Regions from separate parts of the Homo sapiens genome. Here region 2 is linked to region 1. The links come from fine-mapping of genetic effects on gene expression. A gene starts in region 1. The other region holds a variant in brackets. All regions are shown on one strand. Distances are between the middles of the regions. Region 1 holds the start of GRIN2B (glutamate ionotropic receptor NMDA type subunit 2B). Region 2 overlaps GRIN2B (glutamate ionotropic receptor NMDA type subunit 2B).

Region 1 (10,720 bases):
GAAAGCTTACTATCACATTGCATCCTATATTTCCACCTTTCTAGGTTCAATCATTCTTCTCTCTGAAAGTCTTATTCATTCCTCCTTTCTCTCTCTCCTCCCATCCTGCCCCTTTGATTAATTTCCAAAAGAAAAGGGCAGATTTAAGGGTCAGGTGCGGTGGCTCATGCCTGTGATCCCAGCACTTTGGGAGGCTGAGGCAGGTGGATCACGAGGTCAGGAGTTCGAGACCAGCCTGGCCAATATGGTGAAATCCTGTCTCTACTAAAAATACAAAAATTAGCCAGGGGTGGTGGCGCGTGCCTGTAGTCTCAGCTACTTGGGAGGCTGAGGCAAGAGAATCACTTGAACCCAGGAGGTGGGGTTGCAGTGAGCTGAGATCATGCCACTGCACTCCAGCCTGGCAACAGAGCGAGACACTGTCTCAAAAAAAAAAAAAAAAAAAAAAAAAGGCAGATTTAGATGAGTATTGAAGAAATGTTTCCATGAGAACACAATGTAAATGTCTAAAAGTGTATTGTTACAGTGTATACAACAGGCTCAATAAAATGCCCTGCATAATGAATAATTTTTTCATTGTTGGAGGATAAGCAGGTCTTCAGACAAGGGGATGAGGGTTGTTTAACTCTTCCTTTGAAAAAGACTGTCTGAGTTGAATAATTAATATTATTATGATAAGAACAAAATAGAGATTCTTTTAAAAGAGTAATGATGGTAGAGGCAGGATCTTAGTATGCTTGTGCAAATTATTAAAATTGAATGCTCTGCCTGTGTTTCCTGTACACTCCAGGAATTGCAAGCAAAAGAAGATGGATTGGATTAAGCAGAAAACATTAATATGCGTGTTGTCAACTGAGCCTTTAATGATTACCTTTTCAAAGATAAAAATCATTCAAATATTTTATCTAGAAACCAGCAAGCCTGTTTTACATTAGGTAATGAACTGAGAGGCAGACTGACTTTGAAACTAATACAGCTTCGAATTCATAGACTCTCACTTGGGCCCTTTCTAAGGTGTTGGGAGAAGTCCTAAAATGTGCCCAAATGTTTTGGTGAAATTTGCAAAAGTAGCATATTTTAATTGTAATCTATTATTATTATTATTATTTTATAATTGCTTCTTTGTCACCCAGGCTGAAGTGCAGTGGCAGGATGTCAGCTCACTGCAACCTCCGCCTGTCGGGTTCAAGCGATTCTGCTACTTCAGTCTCCCGACTAGCTGTAATTACAGGTGTGCTCCACCATGCTTGGCTAGTTTTTGTATTTTTAGTAGAGATGATATTTTGCCCTGTTGGCCAGGCTGGTCTCAAACTCCTGACCTCAAGTGATCCACCCGTGCCAGGCCTTAATTGCAATCATTTAAAATTGCTCTTTCCATTCCAACTTTCCCTGTCAGATTTCCCCTCACACTGGGTGTCATTGGAGTGGTGGTGACCATTTTTGGGATGAAGCTAAGGGAATGCTGAATTGGAAACACGTTCATTTAGGCTTAGTGAGATATATCTCTACACCTTGCAATCAGTTCTCCATAGAGTTAAGTTATTGCTCACTGTTCCAAATGAAGAAAAGGTTTCCAGGTGTGACACAAAGGTGTCACAGGATATGTGTCATCACAGGATATGTGTCGTCCCGGTATTCTAGTTCAAGAAAAAGCTGCCTCTCCCTTACCTCAAAGTTTCTGACCACTTTGGTATTTTGTAACATTTTTTTTCTCCTTCAGATTTGTCTCTCAAATGGAGTGTTTTAAACATATATGACAAGTAAGAATTTTCTTTAAAGAATCTAAGTGTAATGTTTACCCTTTGGAAGCTGCTCAAGCCTCCAAAGCGGGGCAGGGAAGTGCTGGGAAGGGAAGGGTGTGGTCCCTGGCGAGGGTTCCAACCCCATGCCTGTGCCCAGGGACCTAGGTGAGGACAGGCATTTTTGTTTTCCTGCCCAAATGTTGCATTTCCCAAGACCACATAATGTTGCATTTCCCAAGTCATACCTAAACTAATTATTTAAGATGAAAACAGAAATTCTAAATAGCGGTAATGAATAGACCCCTGGGAATGTTTGACAATCAAATTAATGAAGAGAAGTGAATCATATGAACATATTGGGGAAATATTTATATTTTTGGCTCATTTGAGACAAAATGCTGTCATTGATGAAGACAGTATAAAACTTATAATAAATTACAAACTAGTTAATGAATTTTATCAATTCAAGAGATATTTAAGATTAGTCACTGAACAAGAAAACTTGAAATCCTTGTAACCTGAGAGCTTATATATCAAAGAAATTTGATAAATGTCTTTCTAAATTTGACAACAACCCTTAAAAGTGTAAACTGTACTAATACCAATAAATAGGAAAATTTTCTAAATTATCTATAATGAAAAACAATTTTCAGTTATTTTGAAGAATAAACTGGATCCCAGATTATTTTTTTTGATTCTAGTATCTTCATAGAAAATTATAGTTTAAACCACAATGTGAAGAGGTACTCAAAGAGAATGTGGTAAAAAAAATACAAAAACAAATATTACAGAAATATGCAGTTAACTAGAGATTATTATTTAAATTTTTAATTTTTGTGGTGTTTATAACTACTAAAGAATTTTTAAATTGTTGTGATTTATTTTCTAAGTGGATATTCACTTTTGCAATTAATTTTTTATTCTTTCTCTTAAAGAGGGACTCCAAATTGTATAAACTTCAGGCTCCAGCCTTTGGTACCGTGTTTGATCTGAAAGATGTTGCCAGATAAACATACTTTTTTTGTTGTTGTTGGCCAGGCAAGGCATAGGCTTTGCGTTTGCTGATTGGGCCATGAAAAAGAGTGTTTGCATCTTCTGGGAACCTCTCTTTGGGTTGAGTTGGCAGAATACCTCCAAAAGTGTCATTAGCAGCCTCAAGCAAGAGCTTCTCCTCAATAAGCAATGCTGTGAAATATGATGCAACATTTTGTCTCATTAGAATATTGTTTTCTGTGTTGCTGGACTAGGAGTTAGGAAATATATATTTATGACACTAAGAAATGGTGTTTCGAATTTCATGAATCTGGGCGATCCTTGAAATAGTTTTATTTTATTTATTTATTTTTGAGACGGAGTTTTGCTTTTGTTGGAGTGCTGGAGTGCAATGGCATGATCTCAGCTCACCGCAGCCTCTGCCTCCTGGGTTAAAGCGATTCTCTTGCCTCAGCCTCCCAAGTAGCTGGGATTACAGGCATGTGCCACCACACCTGGCTAATTTTGTATTTTTAATAGAGACGGGGTTTCTCCATGTTGGTCAGGCTGGTCTTGAACTGCCAACCTCAGGTGATCCACTCGCCTTGGCCTCCCAAAGTGCTGGGATTACGGGTGTGAGCCACCACACCTGGCTGAAATAGTTTTATTGAGAGGCTTATGGTCCATGAAGGCAAAGGTTATTAGTGAGAAGAGCAAGTGAGTGACAAGGAGCCAGAAAAAAAGGAGACGAATCTTAGTTCCATTGAGTAGTCAATGGGCAATGAATGCCATGGGCAAGGGATATTACTTTCCACTTCACAATCTGTGTGGTCCCTAGAATTAGCTATTTCAGAACCAGAAAAACTGCTTGATAAAGTGGCTTCAAATAGTCATAAAAAATATCTATTGAACCTCTACTGCATGTCTGGAATTGAGCCAGGTACTGGGAATATATGGATGACTTAGGTTATGGTCTGTCCCCTTAGGGAGCTAAACAACTAGTTTGGAAGACAGGAAATTGACACCAGAATATAATTTTAAGTTTAACTTTATGAAATTGCCTTTTTATTATATGTCAATAATGGTTATTTCATATGATTGGCAATTTCGTATGATTGAATATCAATAGTCTCACATGGTTCAACATGAATAGCTACAGAGGTAATATTTTTCCCTATAGTGGGCCAGTACCTGGTTAATGAATGCAATAAGTTATCACCCAGTCAGTTTGATAACTGATCAAGCAAACTCTTCCATACATTGCTGAATACAGAAAATGAGAGTGGAGGGGATGGTGGTGAGGTGTCATCTCTCATTTCAAAATTCTTGCAATTTTTACAGAAATCAATTCAGGCTTGGTTGACTGAAAAATATCCCCAGAGGAGGTGGGACTTGAGCTGGAAACTGAAGAGGAGTGTGGACTCAATTAGGTGGAGGAAGTATGAGCGTTCATTCTTCCCTGTACACTTGGAAAAGTGAACAGGGTGGAATGGAATTGCAACAGGGTTCAGGTAGGGAGGAAAAGGAAAGAAAATAGGGAAGAATAGTATAATTTTGGTGAAGGGACTGAGGATAGGAAGGGGAACGTGGGCTATGAGCCAGAAATAAAAAATATAAAAATTTAAAAAGTAGATTCAAGGTCAACCCATGAAGATCCTTGAGTGAGCTTGGATGTTATTCTGAAGCTAATGGACCAGGTAACGGTAATTTTCCTGGAAAATTCAGGGAAGAGTGTTTCAGGAAATCTCTATTAGGTTCTTGCTTTCTGCATTCTATACTCCTCTTGGAATCGGCGTTCTAACAACTGCAAACCTGCCCATAGGCAGGTGAACTTGAAAACCCTGGAGACAAATTATTAGAGGGGCTTGGGTTGGCTGTTGTGTATCAAGAGGGCACAGCAACTCTGGGGTGCTTCGACACTTCCCCAAAGTAGTGAAAGATCAGTTCTAACTCTTAGAAAAATAGAAAACCATTACTGAGAAGGAATAATTTGCATGTGAACACACTCTATTTGTGTTTTCACACAATGCTTATGTGTTCGTGTGTGTTAAATATGTTAGATTCAAAAATTAAGCCTGAGAAAAACCAGGAAACAGAAGAATTACTGTAGCTCAGAAGTATGAGTAGTCTGGTCTACAGGACAGCAAAAACATATCTGATGGCTTCTACAGACTAAAGTTCCAAGCCACTAGGTATATCCACTCACACAGCCTTCTCTCCTGTGCGTTTGTATGGCCGCTTCTCAGGAATGCTGGTGAGAAGCCCATGATATAACCAATATGAAAATGTTCCACCACTGTAGTATTCTAGATATTTGAAAAGACAATGGATGAGAATGAAAATGATGCATATACAATAATATTAATGTTAAAAGTAAACAATACTACAGGTGGTGATAAGGGCTATTAAAATATAAAAGAGTTCAATAGGAAGAGAAATGAATGGATGTTTGCCTTTTCAAAGAGGGTGGGTTTGTAAATGCCAGGAAATCCAGTTTCCTTTAGGGATTATTCACGGGCCTCACCATCTTCTCTTCTCAAGGCATTTAAATAACAGGATCCACTTTAATAAAAAATGTCAAACTCCTCCCGCCTTCACTAGCAGCCAGAAAAGCACGCGTATGGTCCATACTATACAATTTAGCCACGAATGACACCTGCTTTGCTTTGTTTTCTATTGTGTTAGGCGTCAGCCTCGTGTGCTCAGATAGATCTTAAGCTCCTTGAAGGCAAGAAAGAACCCGGTCCCAGACTGCGTCCGACACACAGAATGCTCGTAGGAAGCACAGGCTGATTTATGGAAAATACAGCAAGGGTCTTCAATTTCGAACTACAGCTCCGCCTTGGAGATGCTTTCCGCAGCCCGCGGGCCGCCCACGGGGGGCACTGTCTAGCTCCCCTCGCCCCTCAGCCGCTCTCCGTCGGTGCTGTTCCCCGCTGCGGCCGGGAGGAGGCGCCACGGACTCGGGCTAAGCTTCTTCCCCCTTCCGTCCCCCTTCCATCCACCTTACCACCCCACTTCCCCAGCACATGACGTGGGAAGCTGCCTCCGCCAGAGTCTTAGCAAGAGGAGTGAGGGGGTGCAGGGGCTTGGGGGTGGGGTGGGGTGGGGGGTGTGGAGAAAGAGGACACGCGCGCTCACACCCGCCCCTGGGAGCAGAAGCAGTATCTTCCCCAGCTTCGTGGGTTTCTCCTCCCCCCGGAGTCAGGGTGTGCGAGGTAGGGGGTGTGTGTGTGTCTGTGTGTGTGTGCGCGGCACGTTTTTGAGTGTGAGACCCAAATCCAGACCAGGCAACCTGCGTTCCCCGCGCCTCCCCCCGTCCCCGGTGATTAATACCCATTTTTCTGACGCTCCCCTCCTCCCCTCCTGCTCTCCCTCTCCGGCTGCCGCGCGGTTGACTTGCACAGCCTGCCCCCGCCCGCTTCCCTTCCCCCGGCTCCGATCCTCACCAACTGGAATCTGGGCTCCTGCCTCTCCACCCCCCACCTCTTTTTGAGAAAGGAAGGTTCCCCCCACCCCCTTTCAAAAACCACTTCCTCCGGCTTCTTCACCTCTAGGAAATCTCGGGGCTTCGCTCTATCGAGAGTGCTCGTCAAGGGTGATTCTTGATCACCACCATCCAGTAGTGCTGGCGTCCGAATGCATATCCTTTTGCCTTGCAAAGAAGAGTCATGAACTTCAAAACCCCCGAGACGGATCATTAATCCTGCTTTGCAGGAAAGGAAAACCCTCCATTCCCAGCCACCGGCCACCCCTCTCCGCAGACTGCAACCGCGGAGGCGCTCGGAGCCGGTACGTAAAGATGGGCTTTGGAGTCTCTCCTTTGAATGTAGGGGTTTGGGGGTGTCAGGCAGATAAAGGGTCGAAGCCGTGAAATCGTGAACGAATCTGGCATGAGGTAAAGCTCTGAAATCCAGCAGAACCCGGCACTTGCTAATTTGGACGTGGCTTTTTTAAAGGTTTTTTTTTTTTGTGGGGGAGGGGGTGCTGTGACTGGGTAGGGCTGTCTCTGGTCTTTTGGGGGGTTTCATCCCTTCACCTAGCAGAGGGGCAGGGCAGCGGCGCCCCGGGCCGGACCCACGCGCCGAGCCCATCCGTCCAATCGACACGTTGCAGGTGAAGCCCCGTGCGCTGCACCTCAGCGCGGCGGCAGCGTGAGTGTGCGCGGGGGTGAGTGTGCGCGGGGGTGAGTGTGAGTGCGCGCGGGGCGCGTGCGCGTCGGGGGCGTGTGTGCGCGCGTCAGTGTGCCCCTTCCAAGAAATGCCCAGTGTGCACCCCGTGCACAATCAGAACCCATTCAGCACAAGCCCGGGGTGGGAGGCGGCGCTGCTGCTGGAGGCGATGGGGAGAGCGAGCGAGACAAGTCAGCAGCAATGCAGATGGGGCTGGGGGCCGCACTCGCTGGCGAGTTAAGTGGGAATTGTGTTTCTGCGTGTGTGTGAGTGTGTGTTGCTGTATGGTGCCGCTTCTCCCCCCCTTCCTCCTTCCTTCCCACTTCCCTCCTTCGCTCGCTCCCTCCCTCTCTCCTCTTCCATTCAGGTTGGCTTTCCCACCTCTCATCCGTGCCTGTCCCAGGAATGGTATAGCCAGACCTTTTCTGAATTATTTATAGACCGGTACCAGCTGTTTTCAATTCCTCTCGTGTGCACTCTGTGGGAAATGCGGGGTTTCCTCCCCCCTTTCCTTAAAACGAATTGATATCTTTTTCGGAATGCATTTTTCTCACCCTCCGGGGGACACGCGAATCAAGCCCTGACCGCCTCTTTTTCCCCCTTAGGAAGGGGACGCTTTGGGAATGACCATGCTCCACCGAGGGACGGAGCCGGCCCCCAGCTTCTCCACACAGAGCCTCCTCCACTAACGCTCCAAAAACCAAAAACCGTAATTGCCAGAAGAAGCGTTAAAAATCTATTCCAGCCACTAACCTCACATGCACACGGAATAATTACTCTGGATTCTGCATTGTGAGCTGCTCTCCATACCCTGAATTACCTTTGAATTAAATCTTTTTTTTTTTGAATTTGCATCTCTTCAAGACACAAGATTAAAACAAAATTTACGCTAAATTGGATTTTAAATTATCTTCCGTTCATTTATCCTTCGTCTTTCTTATGTGGATATGCAAGCGAGAAGAAGGGACTGGACATTCCCAACATGCTCACTCCCTTAATCTGTCCGTCTAGAGGTTTGGCTTCTACAAACCAAGGTAGGGCAAATTCTATTTTATTTTTTCCTCACCTGGGGTAGGGATTCCTCATTTTATCTATCTCTTCGAGTCCCTCAAGTGGATCTTTTTGGAAGAAAAGGTCACAAGATATGAAAATAATGCTGTTTTGGGAAAAAAGGCTTATTACAAAGAAGGAAATCTCCCATGTTTTTTCTTTTTCTTCTCTCATCTAACAGGTTTTGGGCTTTTGGGGGGCAGTGGGGGTGGATGTATGCAGGCACAAAAGATGTTGGATGGCATCAGGGGAATGTATCTATATCTATAGACATAGCCAGCCAGGAGACCTGTGTGATTTTCCAGTTAAATAGCATTTTATTCACCCAGAACTAAAGCTCCGATTTTTATGGGAATCTAGAAATCCTTTTTTTTTTTTTTTTTCAGGTTGGCTTTATTCCCCTTGTCACCTTCATGCCTCTCTCCCTGTCTCCTGTCTTTACCTTTCTAGGCATCCTTTCTATGCCCTTTAAAACAGATAAAAATAATGATTGAGATTACTGTGATTGTTGCCCTGAAATCCACTTGCTGTCTAAAGGGTTGACAAGGGGCCCAGAGATCCCGGGAGGCCTATTGCAGAGGGGTAGGTCTAGGTGGGGATCGGGCTGGTCTCAGAACACCTGGAATTGAAGGATGCTGCAGGTTAAACGACTTAAATCTTAAGCTCGGAAAGGAGGAATTCTGTCAATATTCTGCTTTTAATTTGTATTTTTTCCTGTGCTATTATTTTTGAGCTGTAAATTTCTCCTTCTGTCTACATATCTATTTATACCCACACATCCTCCAAGCAAACTGTTACTTCTACACTCTTGCAAAATGGCTATCTTGCAGAGTTCTAAAATGCTGTGCATGTGGAAGGGGTGCAGAATTCGACACGTGAGTCTTTGTGTTAAACAAAGAGATGTGCTGTTTGCATGTATTAGTCTTGTACCCTCAAAAATGGAATTAATACTTTAACATTTTCCCTTTCATCAATTTTTACAATATGTGAAATGTGATTAGGCAGTATTTTAATGTACTTGAGAAGAGAAATAGCAGGAGAAATGGAAAAGACTTAGCTAATGACTCTTCAGCTAGTCACTCATGCAATCCAAGACAACTCTTGAGAGAATCAGATCATTCATGGGTTGGAGGGCCATGATGGTGAGTGGGCTGCTCCTTTCCTTGCTCCACTGACCATATGTCCCTGAACTCTGAAGGCGTCTAAATGCAGGGATCAGGTTGGGATAAAGATCTCCAAAAACATGTAGCAGAATCATTAGCATCATTATTTTTCCTAAAAGTATTACCACCACCCCAACACACACACAATTTTTTTTTCTGGCATTTTAAAACAACAATTCTTTGATAATCCAAAATACCAAAGGGATGTGGGGAAGAGGTGAAAGATCTTTGTCGCTCAACATGACAGTAGATGATAGTTCTTCATTGTCCAGAAAGGATAGATGTAATCCAAATTCACTATCCCCCTTCTCTAGGTTTCATTCTTTTGAGTTTTACTGCTGAAATGCTACTTTGTAACCATGGTGTAATCAGAGTGAGAGGGTGGGATCCCACTTTGAACCATGTTCTCACCACGTCTACAAATGACTGAGGTTATCTGGTGTGTGCTCACCTTAGAGACACCTGAACTCATTCTCCATCTGCTTCCACTCCAAGTAGGAGGATGAACTCTTAATTTGACTTCAAAATAGAAAAGAGGTATGGGTGAGAAAGGCAGCTCCATGTGCAATGCTTTCATACATACAGATGGACAAGGAGAGGAGGGCATTGATGGGGCACAGGGCCCCTTTTGCATCCCCAGTGCCACAACACCAGTACTCTACACCCAGTAGGTCCTTTGGAATGTTCGTTTGTTGGTGATGGGTTTGACAAGGATGCTGTTTGACAGGATCTCAGCTACCTCATTTATCTTGAATGCCAATGGATGAAGCCAGGTTCCAGGCTATCATTAGTTGTCCCTAAGACTAGGCGAGGTTGAAAGGGGAGGGAGTTGAGGAAGAGAGGAAAAAGTGGGTGGGGAAGCTATAAAGGGAAAGGAGAGGTAATCCAACTGGAAGAGGCTTGTTAAGATTCAAGGAGGAATCGCCACAGGTGGTCTGTGCCTTTTCACCATGCAAAGCCATTTTGGAGACCCTGATGAGGAAGCAGGTGTTCCCCATCCTCGCAGGCAGTCTCTGTGAGGCTGTGACTCAGTGGTGCTCTGAGCCATCTCAGGGCCTTTGTTCTCGCCCCCTTTTTCCCCCTCACAGCACAGAGCTGACTGGGTTCTATTTTGTCTTTTCTCCTTCTGCCAGCCCCCTTACAATGTGGGTGACATGGGAAAGAAAGGTGGCGGCTGGTGGGAGGAAGAGCAAATTTAATTTCAATCGAGGAACCTCCATGATGTGCAATTAAGAAAAGTAATAATAATGGGAAATAAAGACTTCCCAGGACACAGTTAAGGACATTAGGTGGGTGATTTCAAGAGAAGCAGAACAACATGGTTATCTTCTATGTCTGTTTCAGGTGTGGCAGAGCATGGCGGATCTGTGAACACAGAGTGATGTGGCAGTTTAGAGTTAGGTGTTACATGTGAGGAGAGGAGCCGGGAGTACCACTGGATTGTCTAATTTTTCCTCTCCCGTTGGTTCCATCCCTAGGAAGCCTGTCTGTCTGAAGATCCATGCTTTGCTAATGTATATATGCAATTTTTGCCAGGGATGGACGCAGGCAGAGAGAATCAATAAGAAGGTGAAATGACAGGAAAGGAGGGGAAAGAGAAAAAATCCTCAATTCAATACTT
Region 2 (8,000 bases), 260 kb after region 1:
GATTTTAAGATTGAAGGGATGATGATAGATTGGTGGAAACTGAGAAGTTGGAGTGGGAACTTGCTTTTCACAGAAGCTGCATCAAATTCTGAACTGAGGGCTGGACACATTAGTGAGGATGTCTTGTAGTGCCTACAGCTATGCAGTCTGGAACGTGGAATTACAGATTTAAAATTTATCAGCATAGAGTGGATACAACTGTCAGTGGCCCAGCTGAGAAAAGCTGAGTTGTCTCAGGAGAAGAGTATCTAGAAAAAAGTGAGCTATGGACTGAGCCTTGAACATCAGCTATAGTTCCAGGGCAGGAGGAGCCACAGTGTTCAGTGAAGGACACAGGCCTGGTGGAGACAGGGAAGGAGGATTGTGGTGGTCAGCTGTATAGGTGCACGTGTTATTAAAGCCAAAAGAAATAACCATTTTAAGAAAGGAAAGGGGTTTAGTCATGTCAAATGTGGTAGAGAGGGCAGGCATTTGTGGGCCAACCTTACCTTTTATTTCCCTTTTTTTGTACACTTAACTACCATTAATCAGGGATTAATTATTTAGTTTTTTAATTATTCTGCTCAGTTGCCTAATGTTTGATCATTTTATAAACAGCATAAGGAAGAAATTTGAGGGAAGGGAAAGATTCAAACCATTTTCCCCCTATTACGAGGTGTAGGAAAAATTTGGTGGGGAAGAAACTTAACACTCACTATCGCCTACAATGAGATTTGGGGCCCTTGACACATGATTAGATGCCAGGGGTCTCTCAACATCCTGGCCCGTATACTTGTTAGCTGAATGACCATGGCCAGGTTCCTAACCTGTCTGGGCTTGCTTCTTCATCTATAAAAACGGAGGCAACACTAAAGGCTTTGTACTGTATTTGTGCTCGTTAAATAAGAATGTATACAAAGTGCTTAGCAGGGGGCCTGGAACAAAGAGTACCAAAACACAGTCAGCTTGTTTGGTTATTAGTATCTAATTTTGCTTGTTTTATTGGGCTATCCCTGCTCATATTGACATTAATTATTGATAATTGAATAAAACATTGTATTTGGAAAGTGTAATCATTAAAAATTGTATTTTCTTTTTCTCATTTTTTGAAGACGAATGGATTTCTTCCATTATAGTTTTATAAGACATAAATCTATATGAAATCTGAGCAATTCCTTGTTCCTGAATTTTCCCTGCCAAGGGACCCCAGCCTGGGGATGGCACCTTTATGAGGAACAGTGAGGAAGTGGCCTGGGGATGCTTCACGATAGGAGGAAGGAAATTATCTGAGTCTCTCAGTCTGAAGTGTTTTACTGATGTTGGAATGGGGAATCATCCTGAAATTAAAAAAAAAAAAAAAAATAGGTGTATATTTCTCAGAGCAAAGATACATGTGCTGACAATTTAGATTTTTTGCCCAGAGATGCTGGCATTTTGTTTCTGGGGGCGGTTCTTATGTTTCCAACAGTGTTCCCACTGCATGCCATGTTCTCTCCTCCTCACCCTTATCCTCCCACCCCCCTCCCCATATGGCTTCCTCTTTGTCTCGCCCACCCTACTCCTGGTTTCTTTCTGTCTCTCTCTTCTCCTGTAGTTATTTCCTTTCGGCAGCAAAATGAATCCTTCACAGAACAGAGTATGACTTTCCTCAAACCCATTCTCCATCTCTTTCAGCTATTTCTTTTCTGGAAGTTCTCGAATGAGCAAGATATCTGGGAGACAGTCTTTCCTACATATTCTGTTGCACTTCTCCAGTGATTCTCTTTCCTCTGGTGATTCATTTGGCTCCATTCTCTGCCTCCATCTTCCCCAAGCTTTCTCCCTAATGACTCTTCCTTCCACCCGCCTCCAAGACTGTCTCTCCATGAACAGGCTACACCCAGCCCAAGACTTAACCTGGCCTTGAAAATCTTCATCATACAAAAGCTAAGACAGACAGAGAGCTACATAAAAACGGGAGAGACAGAAGGAAGATAGGACTCTGAGAATGAGTTCGGACATGACTAAAGATGACCCAAACAGCTGGGTGCAGCTGTGGGAATGGCAGTGCATTATTTGTGATAAAGAGTTATGATTGATAGTGCGGTACACAAGGACTTATCTACATTAACCTCCTCCCCGCCACTCCCATGCTGGGAATAAATGTTAAGTTATTGTTAGCATATTTTGTTTTCTTTGTTTAAAGCACAGGATAGCTAGTGCTAAGTAAGAAAAAAACAGAAAAATAAAACATCCCTCTTAGACTTTAACTCTGTCTCTGACTTCATCTCTTTCTCAGATGGAGACACAATACCGTAAGTGAGAATACCATTGTATTATGTTGTGTGATTTGTGTGAGAAGATACTTGTGTATGGAGAGAGTTTTACTGATGGGTGCTGAGGGAGGTAAGGGTTTCTTTTGAATAATTTAATAAAGAACAGAAAATAAGTGAATATTAGTTCTGTGTGAAGAAGAGTCCAGAGGAAATAAATGAGTAAGAAAGTGATTATCAAACTGGTAGGTTATTTGGGCATTCTGACTAGAGTTAAACAACTTACAGGTGACTGTTGGTAATGCTGGCAATAGCAAATTATACTCCCTCTGTGCATCCATCCACCCACCAATCCTTCCATCCATCCATCTAATTTTCACTGAGCATTGGCTGTGTGTACAGTCAGTGATAGATGCTGTGGGAGATCTATCAAGTTTACACCTGGTTCCTGCCATTAAGGAATCTTTGATATTGAAGCACACACAAAGAGGGTGTGAATTGCCATCTCCCCTCTTTGGCCTTTTTCTCCATCCTTTCTCTCTTCCAGTCTTAAAAATCGTCTCTGAAGCCCCAAACTACAGCTCTCTGTGTATCTCCTTAGGTATCAGATTACCTACAAAACAAATTTCTTATTTTTAAAACATATATAAGGAAAATATTCTGATGTGTAGGGAGTTGTGGGCATCCTTTGGTGGCTGGATGATGAAATATTAAAGCACTACTAAACAGTGGTTCTCTAAAACTGGTTGAAAAAAATTTCTAGCCTTCAATATTCTTTTTCTTCTCCCTAAAAGTTTATTGGTTCCCATACCCCAAAGTTAGTCCTACCCAACCACAACCCTGGGAGGACTACTCAGTGCATGAATCTGAGTCGTGGGCTGCTGAATGAAAGCAAAGTGATTGCAATCTGAGGAGGTCATAAAATCGTGCATTCATTCATTATTCAACCACCATTTCCTGAGTGCCAACCATGTTACTGGCTTTGTAAATACAGAAATAAAAGACCAGGGTTTCTGCCCTTGAGGGGCCCACAATCTCCAACAATGGAGGTGGCTGGGAAAACAGCCAAAATACCACATGTGATCAGTTTTACATAAGCTTTACTCACAATGCTACAGTAAGAGCTACAGTGAAAGGGTCAATGATGCATGCTATCCATGCCCAGGAGAAGGGGTGCATGCAGAGGTAGGTTTCCATGACTCACAGTATCTCCTTTATTGACAGATTTACATTTTACCCCACAGAGCTATTATCCAGAGCTGTTAATAAGTAGGAACATGGTTTGCATAAGTAGGAACATGGTTTGCATTTCCTAGCTTTTACTCACAGCCTTCCCTCTTCCCAGCAGTGATCACAGCATCAGGTCCTCCCACCTTGAGAAACAATGACCATCTGAGTCTCTATCCCTGTCACCATTTCACAAACTCTGCAGAAATAATGGGTAAAACATTGTGCTTTTAACAGGACTAATCATCATCATTGTTGTAATAACGGGATTTATATATTTCTTACAATTTGCAGGTCCCCTCAGCTGTAACAACTAGATTTCCCAGAGAGTTAAAGAACAAGCTGTGTCACATCTAATGAGGGAAGAGCTAGCATTTGGATCACCCAATGCTAAAGCCCCAAATGACCAGGTGTAAATCGTTACAATCTCAAGTGCTTTTTCTATACAGCCTTGATAAAATGAACATCCTTTGTGAAATTGTAAATCTTCAGATCAATTCAAGAACTCATGGGAAACCACCAGAAAACATAGACTAGACATGAGAACTGTTGTCTGGAACCAAGGCTGTGTTGTATAGCAACAAAAACATTAAACTGGAAATCAGAAGACTTGCATGGCAGTCCACACCCTACCTTGTCGTGGCATATGTCACTTAGTTTCTTTGTGTCTTACTCTCCTTATTTATAAAATGAAGGGAATGGGTTAGACAATCCCTAGGGTTAAGAGTGAAGAATTTGGAGCCTCTTACCTATATTCAAATCCTGAGCTCTGCCGCTTTCTGGTTGCTCTAGTTCTTTCCATTTCTTACACAACTTGATTAAATTACTAGTTATTTAATCTTGTTGAGCCTCAGTTTCCTCATCTGAAAAAATGGAGATAATAACTGTTCTGTGAAAGGATTGCTCCGATAACTAATTAGTTAATAGTTTTACTCAGGAGTGGAAAACCAAACGGTATGTTCTTATTTATAAGTGGGAGCTAAGCTATGAGGATGCAAAGGCATAAGAATGACACAATGGACTTTTGTGGACTTGCGGAAAGGGTCGGAGGCGGGTGAGGGATAAAAGACTACACATTGGGTACAGGGTACATTGCTCAGGTGATGGGTGCACCAAAATCTCAGAAATCACTACTAAATAACTTATTTATGTAACCAAATACCATGTGTTCCCCAAAAACCTATTGAAATAAAAAAGTAAATTTAAAAAAATACATGAAATTATAAAAAAGAAGAAAAAGTTAATAGAAATAGTATGTGGCTTGAGTAAATGTTATATATTTATATATATATTTATAATATATAAATATATATATATATTTCTTTCTTTTTTTTGACAGAGTCTCGCTCTTTTGTCCAGGCTGGAGTGCAGTGGCATGATCTTGGCTCACTGTAACCTCCACCTCCTGAGTTCAAGTGATTCTTCTGCTTCAGCCTCTCAAGTAGCTGGGATTACAGGTGGCC[G/A]CCACCATGCCTGGCTAATTTTTGTATTTTTAGTAGAGACAAGGTTTCACCATGTTGGCCAGGCTGGTCTCAAACTCCTGGCCTCAGGTGATCTGCCCGCCTTGGCCTCCCAAAGTGCTGGGATTACAGGCATGAACCAATGTGCCCGACAATTTTTTTTTAATTAAAAAAAAATATTGGCCCCTTCACCTCTAGGCTATTATGAGTCTTTGAAGCTTTGATATTTCTGGAAGTGGAGAAAGAATATACAATTTACAAAGTAGCTAGTTTAAAGAAAAATGCTGAAATGGCTAAGAGGTATGACTATTTCAGCAGGAAACTCAAGAAAGGATACAGTGGAATAAGAAATTAGCAATTTCATGGATGTAGGTAGAAATTCATGGGTAGAAATCTCAGTAGGGAAGCAGAGGGAAGTGATGTAATGCTCTGGACCTTCCAGAAATAAAGCAGAGCAGGTGAAGATCTGCAAGAAACTCCAGTCTGGTGAAATCTCCAGGAGAGTCATTGTGAAGTTCATTTTGCAGTTAACCCCATGCGCTCACCTCTCTGCCCATCCCTGTGTCCTGCTCTGATTTCTGGGCTCCTTCATTCTGGCAGCATCAGAACTTAGGGTTCAGTGAAGTTGGGGTTTCTCTTCACAAAACCCTGGGCCCTCTTCCCTGGAAATTGCTCCATTTCTTGTTAAGCAGAGGGAAAATGAAAATATTCTAGCTGTCTGTATTCTATAATAGTTTTGTGATGCTTTTCCATAAATTGGTATAAACAAATAAATACAAGCTATAAGAAGGCAGAAGTGTAAAGAGTCTGTGTATCCGATCTGCTTGGTTTCCCTCATTCTTGATCAAGTCCTGTGTCTTGCTCATGCTGTGGCCCAACCTGTAACTCCTAGCTGCTAATTTAGCTGAAGAATCGGTTGTTTAAAACAGGGACCATATGCCTTAGCTTCCCCAGCTGTATGACTAGGAGAACACCTTGCAAATGTATTGTGATGCTGAAATAAAATAAAATGTGTGAACTCACCAAATACAGTCCTGCCACCCTACTGCCTGACTCCTCCTCTTCCCTCTTACCTGCACATCCTCCTCCACCCCTCCTCTTCCCCTTTCTTTCCTCTCATTCTTCTTTTCTTCCTTGTATTCAAAATGACACAATCTGGTGACTAATTCCTGATCTGCTCTTTGATTTCCCCAGAGGAAGAACTGATCCCTCCAGGGGACACTATTATCCTGAGGCTAGATAGTGACAACGGTGTGCTGAGAAATAAAGAGCAGAGATTTGCCCAAAGAAGAGTGGTTTCAGGAGGGGCTTTTGGTAGGCACAGAGCACAAGAGTTTGCAATTGCTATACAAGCATTATTGCTCTGTCTCAAGGAAGTTGTTTGCCTTTCACTGACATCTGAATTTACTGTTTCAGATGAAGGGGGAAGAAAAGGAGGAGCAAATTATCTGCTGGGGACCTGCTATGTCCTAGACACCATAGTAGAATGCATCTGGCAATAATTTTTGGAGGTAGTGGTAGGGCCCTGTGCAGTCCCAGGATTATTTAGCTTGCCTAGAATTTCTACTTCTTAGAAGCAGCCTGTCTTAGCCTTTGTGCAAGGAGTTTATATGGGAAACAATCTTAGGGAGCAGAAATTAGGGAGTAGGAGAGTGAATGTGGAAGGGGGTAAAGCCAATGATAGGAGCCATATTGAGCTGAAACCCTGTGAGTGACAGGTGCTGGATCCCACAAGGGCATCCTAGGAGAGCCTTCAGAAATGCATCTTAGGACAGAGTCAGGTAATCAATTTTCAGTCTCACATAAAATTAATACTTCCATTTTAACATTCCCACCTTCTTAATCTTCTGATCTCTTTTTCAATATTTTGCCAAAGTCTTCCCATCATTTGTCACCTCATCCCCTAGGCCATCAACCCAGGAGTATATTAGGAATGCCTATAGGCATCTCTGCAAGGAGTTTGAATATCATTTCACAAGAAAGTGTTGCTGTGCCAATAAATTCTCTATCCCATTCTACCTCCAGTCTAACTTCCTCAAAGTTCACTCCTACATGTGCTTCCTGATTTCTGCAAACCTGTAATTGGCCGGGCCTTTCCATTGCAATTCCTTCAGTATGTAAACTATTTCCTCCTAGATATTCATCCCTTCTAGGGACTGTATTTTCCAGCTGTAGTTGTGCTATGACCTGGCTCTAGTTATTGGCCTGTAGGGACTACAGAGAGATGGGGTCACATATTGAGGACAGGAGTCAGAATGAGAGGCACCTGCTTCAGATGTGTTCTTTACAGTGTTTTTAAAGGCAGACTTATTTCCTTTGGCAAGAGGGGAGGAGCTTTTCTTGCCTTCTAAGAGGTTTCAGGAAAATCCTCTCTTACTGTCTTCCTAAGTGTACCACGTGGGTCTCCAGGTCCCATTCTTTTCCTATTGGAATTTCCTATTAGAATTTCCACAAAGGAGGAATTCCAAGGTTATGCATTTAGTCTCTTTGGTAGCATTGCCACTATTAGTTTTTTTCCTCTGGATCGATCTGATTTTCAGCAGGATTTCCTGAGTTGATAGTCAGTTCATTTGATTCTTCCAGTTTATTTTTTTAAGACTTGAAAATGTATTGACAAAGCCAGCCAACTGCTCATGTATTTTTCAAATACCAGAGCCACCACATAACCCAATACGTTACCCTCTACCACTAGCTTATCCCAATCCACCACAGGTAAGAGTGTTAGTATTTGTGATGCTAAAGAATGAACATACTAGGAATTAATACTACTTCACTCACCTGTAGCAGTGGGGTCTTCACTGAATTCCACAGTCCCATCTTGAGAAACTGATTTCTAAAGCCACTCCTAATGCCAGTTATCTTACCTGAGTTCCTTTGATGGCAGAGAATGAGGCACTAGCTTATATGCAAGTGTTTTTTTTTTTTTAAGTAATTCTAGGGAGCAGGGCTTAGGGACTAGAACAGTGAGACAGGGAAGGAGAGAAAATTGATACAAGGGTACATTATCTGGTTGAGCATTGCTGACAGCAAGTGGTCATTCATCCTACAAGAAATGCTCTAAGAAGCCTTAAGAAATGTGTCT

The links. PIP is the estimated chance that this variant, and not a neighbour inherited with it, causes the effect.
Region 2: its variant is the best candidate, but not a certain one, in a credible set for the expression of GRIN2B in tibial nerve (GTEx, PIP 0.56).

The regions. Positions count from the first base shown.
Region 1 is chr12:13,977,128-13,987,847 of GRCh38, reverse strand. It overlaps GRIN2B (glutamate ionotropic receptor NMDA type subunit 2B), which reads left to right and starts at 6,246. Exons shown (of 14, transcript NM_000834.5): 1 at 6,246-6,506; 2 at 7,492-7,920. RefSeq lists an enhancer at 1,294-2,493.
Region 2 is chr12:13,723,325-13,731,324 of GRCh38, reverse strand. The region is part of intron 4 of GRIN2B (glutamate ionotropic receptor NMDA type subunit 2B); the gene reads left to right. Among named protein-coding and RNA genes, the nearest start is that of GRIN2B, 250 kb to the left of the region's middle. The variant G/A (reference allele first, on the strand shown) is at 4,922.